Regions from separate parts of the Homo sapiens genome. Here region 2 is linked to region 1. Evidence: fine-mapped expression QTL. A gene starts in region 1. The other region holds a variant in brackets. All regions are shown on one strand. Distances are between the middles of the regions. Region 1 holds the start of CRYZL2P-SEC16B (CRYZL2P-SEC16B readthrough). Region 2 holds the start of SEC16B (SEC16 homolog B, endoplasmic reticulum export factor).

What was found. PIP is the estimated chance that this variant, and not a neighbour inherited with it, causes the effect.
Region 2: its variant is fine-mapped to the expression of CRYZL2P-SEC16B in tibial nerve (GTEx, PIP above 0.99). The same link has a PIP of 0.9 or more in atrial appendage.

What each region holds. Positions count from the first base shown.
Region 1 is chr1:178,036,385-178,039,293 of GRCh38, forward strand. CRYZL2P-SEC16B (CRYZL2P-SEC16B readthrough) reads right to left here and starts at 1,592. Exons shown (of 32, transcript NM_001356506.2): 1 at 1,513-1,592; 2 at 1,310-1,417. It also overlaps the pseudogene CRYZL2P.
Region 2 is chr1:177,967,672-177,970,580 of GRCh38, forward strand. CRYZL2P-SEC16B (CRYZL2P-SEC16B readthrough) reads right to left here. Exons shown (of 32, transcript NM_001356506.2): 8 at 12-368. The coding sequence starts at 310. It overlaps SEC16B (SEC16 homolog B, endoplasmic reticulum export factor), which reads right to left and starts at 2,387. Exons shown (of 26, transcript NM_033127.4): 1 at 2,213-2,387; 2 at 12-368. The coding sequence starts at 310. The variant G/A (reference allele first, on the strand shown) is at 1,631.

The DNA of each region.
Region 1 (2,909 bases):
AGGTTGCGCACTCCTTATGAGAATCTAATGCCTGAGGATCTGCGGTGGAACAGTTTCATTCCAAAACCATCCCCTCCAACCCCCATCAGTCCATGGAAAAACTGTCTTCCACAGAACTGGTGCCAAAAAGGTTGCGGACCGCTGTGCTAGACAACCACTGTCATAAACCAACACATCCCAACAGGGGTTGGAATTACTGGAAGAAATGAAAGCTGAGACACCAAAGGGATGATATTGATTTGTTTGTACAGAGGTGGCCATATTGGTGAGAAGAAATTTTTATCTACAAAATTCATTCATTCAACAATTTTTTAAGCCTCTGCCACATGCCAGGAACCATTTTAGACTTAAGGGATTTAGTAGTGAGTAAAACAAACATAGTCACAGCTCTCATGGGCTAATTCCTTACAATGCAATGTCTAGGACAAATAACAGAACAAAGGAGCCTAGCCCTCAGCCTGGACACATTCCATGCAGGACACATCAGTTATTGACAGGCATGCACAGGGCACACATGTGTTCTCCAGCCACTCCACCTAGATTTAAGGATGATTTGAGGATGAATGTCGTTCAGCATGTGAATCCCAGGAAGTAGATTGGCTGCCATCATGTGCTCATTCAAATAATCCGTGTTAGCCATGTTAGTTAACAGGCTCCATGCTGGTAACACTTCAGGGCTATGGCTGCCTTTCTCCCTCTCCCTGAAGGTCTCCAACACTGAGGCCCACTATCTGCTTCACGCTGTCTGAGGTTCTCATCTCCACACCAGATGACACTGTGTTACTAGAGTGGTCAATAGGCAAGGCCAAAATGATGTCCACATTTCAGTGGACCAGCTGCCCACATCCCTAAACGAACCCCATCCCAAATGTCTGCAATATACCAGAGGCGTATGTTCACATGGAAACACGGAGGTTACCGGGCTGGTTTCAGGGAGGCAGAGGCCGAATAATTCGATTCCGGCACTGAGGTGGAAGGAAGCAAAGGATGAGGTCCATGTACCTGTGTTAAACCAATAACTTGCACATACAAAGTCGTGTGCAAATCAGAATTCTCTGTTTCTAAGGCAACAGCTCTGAGCATTGAGAAAGAGGCCTATAGGCGTGTTTTGGGGGAACAATCTTCCTTTAGCACTTTAGACCTTGGAAAGGGCTTCAGCCCCCTAGCTATCCCAGGACGAAGTTGCCCTCCACTCTCTCGGTCGCCCCCTCGCTTCAGAACTGGGAACTTGATTCAAGAAGGAAGCCTGCGGGGAGTGTGTGGTGGCGGGGAGAAGGGGAGGGTAGAAGGGGATAAGCCAGCCCCCTACCTCGTGAGGCCCGACGGGGCGGGGGCCACCTCTTCAATGGTCAGGGGCTTCTTCAGCTCTGCGCAAATCGCAGCGCGGTAGTGCCGGCCGCTGCCCTGTCCGGCTCTCCTGCAACACAAAACAAGGGAAGGGTCAGTCGGGCAGCCCCGCCGGGAGCACCCTGGGACTGCCTTGCGGGGCTCAGGGAGGAGTCGGGGTTGCACCTGCAGACCCACGCCCGAGGGAGGCACTGCCTGCAGAGCACGGCCGCCAAGGCCAAGCCCAGCGAGGGGCGAGGGGGAGTGGCCAGAGCGCGGCAGGAAGAGCCGGACAGCGCCGCCCAGCCCCGGGAGAGCGGAAGGGCGGCCCGCGAGGCCTCCTGGCGACGCGCCCTGGCAGCCACGACCCAACCCCGGCGGGGCAGCTCCGGTCCAGTGCGCCCGGCTTCTACGGCCGCCGAGACCAAACGACCGCGCGAGCTCCCTGTTGGGCCTCTCTGGAGGTGGAGCCGGCTGGAAGAAAAAAAGAATAAAGGAAAACACCAGGAAACGGAATTCGATTACCCGAGATTAACCTTCTTTGGCATTTTTATAACAAATTTGGGAGACTTTTTTTTTTTGTAGTTTCAACTTTTATTTTAGATTCAGGGGCTACATGTGCAGATGTGACCTGGGTATATTGTGTGATGCTAAGGTTCAGGGTACGAATCATCTCGTCACTTCGGTGCTGAACATAGTACCTAATAGTTTTTCAACCCTTGCCCCCCTCAAAATTGGGAAACTTTTTAAACCACACTTGGCGACATTTAAATAGTGGTTCTTGGCTGGGTGGTTAACGCCTGTAATCCCAGCACTTTTGGAGGCCAAGGCGGGTGGTGGCCAGTGTCTGTGGTCTCAGCTACTCAGGAGGCTGAGGCGGGAGGGTCGCTTGAGTGCAGGAGTTGGAGGCTGCGGTGAACTATGATCGCACCACCCTGAGTGACAGAGTGAGACCTTCTCTATCGATTAGATAGATAGACAGACAGACAGATGATACATAGATAAAGGTTATTGGGTCCTCTGCCAGTGCAAAAAATCCTAAATGCACAGGTAAAGGCTTTATTTATGTATTTATTTTTGAGACAGTGTCCTTCTCTGTCACCCAGGCTGGAGTGTAGTGGCACTATTTCGGCTCACTGCAACCTCCGCCACTTAGGGTCAAACCATCCTCCCGCCTCAGCCTCCCATGTAGCTGGTACTATAGTTGTGCGCCACCATATCTGGCTAATTTTTGTATTTTTTTAAAGACGGGTTTCATCATTTTGCCCAGGCTGGTCTCGAACTCCTGGCCTCAAGCGCCCTGCCCGCCTCAGCCTTCCAAAGTGCTAGGATTACAAGTGTGAGCCACCACACCTGCCTAGGTGAAGGCTTTAAAGTCAGCATTTGAACACCTTGTTAGAGTTCAATTCTTGTTACTAATTTTCTCACATTTGCAGGACCATTTACACTAAATCCAAAGAGTTACTAATGATCCAATGTTGAATGAGCCTACACAAATCCAAATAATACTTCCAGTTAAAATCAGACCAAAACCCACCACGGGGAGAGTGGAAGAGCATTGGTTCTCATGTCCCCAATGCCAG
Region 2 (2,909 bases), 69 kb before region 1:
TAAAGCCATACCTTGAATACAACTGATTGCGATAACCACCTTCGTAATAGTCAACTCCAGACACAGGCTGATGCCAGTCCCCTGGCCTGGATGCATAATGGGGCTGCTGCTGATGGTCTGCCCTGGGCTCCTGCTGTGGCTGGGGGCTCCCACGGTTGTCTTGCCATTGGTGAAACCTCTCTCCATTGTGCCAAGAGTGAGGGACAGGCCGATGATGTCCATCTCTCCGAAACCCTCGGTCTGGATCCTTTGAGGGTGCTGTGGCCTTCCCTCGTGTCTGGGGCAGCCTCTGGGGAGCCCAAAGTTCCATCCTTGACTCTCTGAATTTGTCCTGGGTTTTGAGTAAGTTGTGCAGTTATTTTATCTTCCTGCAGACAAAAGAAAAAGGAAAAAATCATCACTTGAAGCCTATATCCAAACATAGTGGTTGATTAGGTTTTGTGAAAAGAGCAGCTATGGTCCTCGAAATATATCTAAAACAAACCATATGGTCACGGATACAGAGAAATCTGAGAAACAATCTCAGATACATGAAGCAAATAACAGACTAGACAATTATATTAATATTGCTTAAAAAATTAAAAAGTACATGTGGAACAACGACAGATGAGGGAGGCAAGGGAGACAGATAACAATAATAGGTACAGCTAAAAATGCTATCAAGGAATCCCAGTTGATGTTTCTTCACATATTCCCCCAGCAAGTGTTTATTTAACACTTACAGCGGAGGCCCTGTGGTATCATAAACAGAGTGGGTCTTGCAGAGAGCTAGATCAGAGTTCAAATCCTAACTCTGCCACTTAACTAGCTAGTTCATTTTTTCAAGCCTCAATTTCCTTACCCATGAAATGGAGACTGTAAGGACTACCTTGCAAGGTTATTGACAGAGTTAAAGATAACCTATGCGAAGTGCGTAACATGTTACCTAACATGTTAAAATGCTCAATAAATAGCAGTGTTATCAAGGATAAAGATTAGGGTAGTATGAGTGGCTGAAGATGTTTATTAAACAAAAAGAAATTTAGACTGACCTTTTCAAGAAGCACCTTTTCTGAATCCTTACATTAACCCCCTCAAAGAACTAGAACCTATATAATATGGTCATACCTGCTCCTCCTCCAGAGGAGCCAACAAGAGGCAAATTTGGGATTGTTTTCATAAGAAAATAGAAGGCCATATCTCAGGATTCTTCCCGGTTGGAGATTTTAAATGCTGAAAGTCTCCCTAGCATCAAACTAATTTTCCCCCACGTAATCCTGAAAAAGGGAAATTGCTCCAAGGACTGATTACCTTCCAGGTTCCTCTGCCCATTGCACGGGGTAGCGGGGGACAGGGGTTGCACCCACAAAAGGAAAGCACGCCTCAGATCTTACTCTTGCTCAGGGATTCCTTGTGTCAGGAGCATCCACAGGCTAGGTCGGCCTCGATTTTTTTCTTCCTTAGGAACTGTTTTAGGTTGCAAGATTCTGATCAAATCAGTTAACTTGTTTCCACTACTGAAGGTCCCAGCCTCATATAAAAATTCATATCAGAACAAAAGGTCAAAAGAGTGGGTGTTGAAATTGAGACGTCACTCTGCTCAAACACCAGGGAGCCGAGGTCGACAGCTATGAGCCAAGAGCTATGAGAC[G/A]GCAGAACACACAAGAAGAACAAGGTGCGGAGGGGGCCTCCCACCTCAAGGTCACTCACAACTCAGGGGAACCTCTGGCTTCCTTCCCATATCATCTCACTCCCTTGAAAAAGCCAGGTGCAATGACAGCCTTTGCCAGCAAATCCCAGGAAAGGCCAAATGTCCCAGACACAGGGAAGGGCACATGAGCCTTTTCTGAAGGCTGGTGGAACTCAAAACCATTTGGACCAAGTAAGCAGAATGAGAAGAAACCTGCTTTCTCCTTGTCCCCAGATAGTCTCATTAGGCAGCCCTTTCCCAACTGCAAAGGTGCAACACCCAATCTTTCCACTGAAATCACATCATTTTGCTGCCAAGAGACATCAACTCCAGCAAATCAGTCCTCAGATTAAGGACACCAAATAAATAACACCTTCGATTCTCAAAATGAAGGAATTACATCTATGATGACAAATCAGACTCACACATTCATGTAGATGACCTTTCCTAGCCCCAGTAAAGGCAATCTTGCCTTTCCTAATCTGACGGCACAGCACGTCCAGCTCAAAGAGGGGAAAGAAGGGAGCGAGTGTTCCCACACACCTGCTCTGATGGCTTCCCACCTTCCTTCAGCGCTGCTCCAGGGACCTGGCCCAAGAGTGCCTCCTCTCCTCTTGGAGACTGTCAAAGTCCAGGTGCCACATCTACCAAGACTCCCCAGGCCCTCAGATCTACATCATGTCAGTTACCTTTGCAACTGCCCAACCTCCATGGAGCTGATTCATTAGGGCAAAGTACAGCCCAGATACCGCAGCCCAGGACCCGCCTGACTTGACGAATTTGCTCAGAACCCTGTCAGAGACTGGCGCTTCTGTTTGCCTGAGCATGGGCTGAGCCAGGTTCACTCACATGAGAAATCATCCAAATTCCCACAGCAATCACGGAAGAGAGACATCAGGAAGAGGAAGTCCAGAAGCCCCAAGGCAGCCTGGTCTGGCGAGAAAAGCACCACCTTTGGGGTGTTAACTCGGGGCTCTACCACTAGCTGGTTCTGTTACTTAACCTCTCCGAGTTTCAGTTTCTTTTTCTTTAAAATGGGAATGGCAATGCTTAGCTTATGAGGGTCATTACGGGGCTGAAATGTTGGTAAAGCAGCACATGATATATAGGTAAGTATGCCCTGCAGATCAATATTATCTTTTCCTTCCCAAAGAGACAAGTTAATTCCACTGGTTGAGGCACATGGGGAAGGGGACACGCTCACTGGTGGGAGCAAACACCTGGTTTGCCCAGTGTGGGT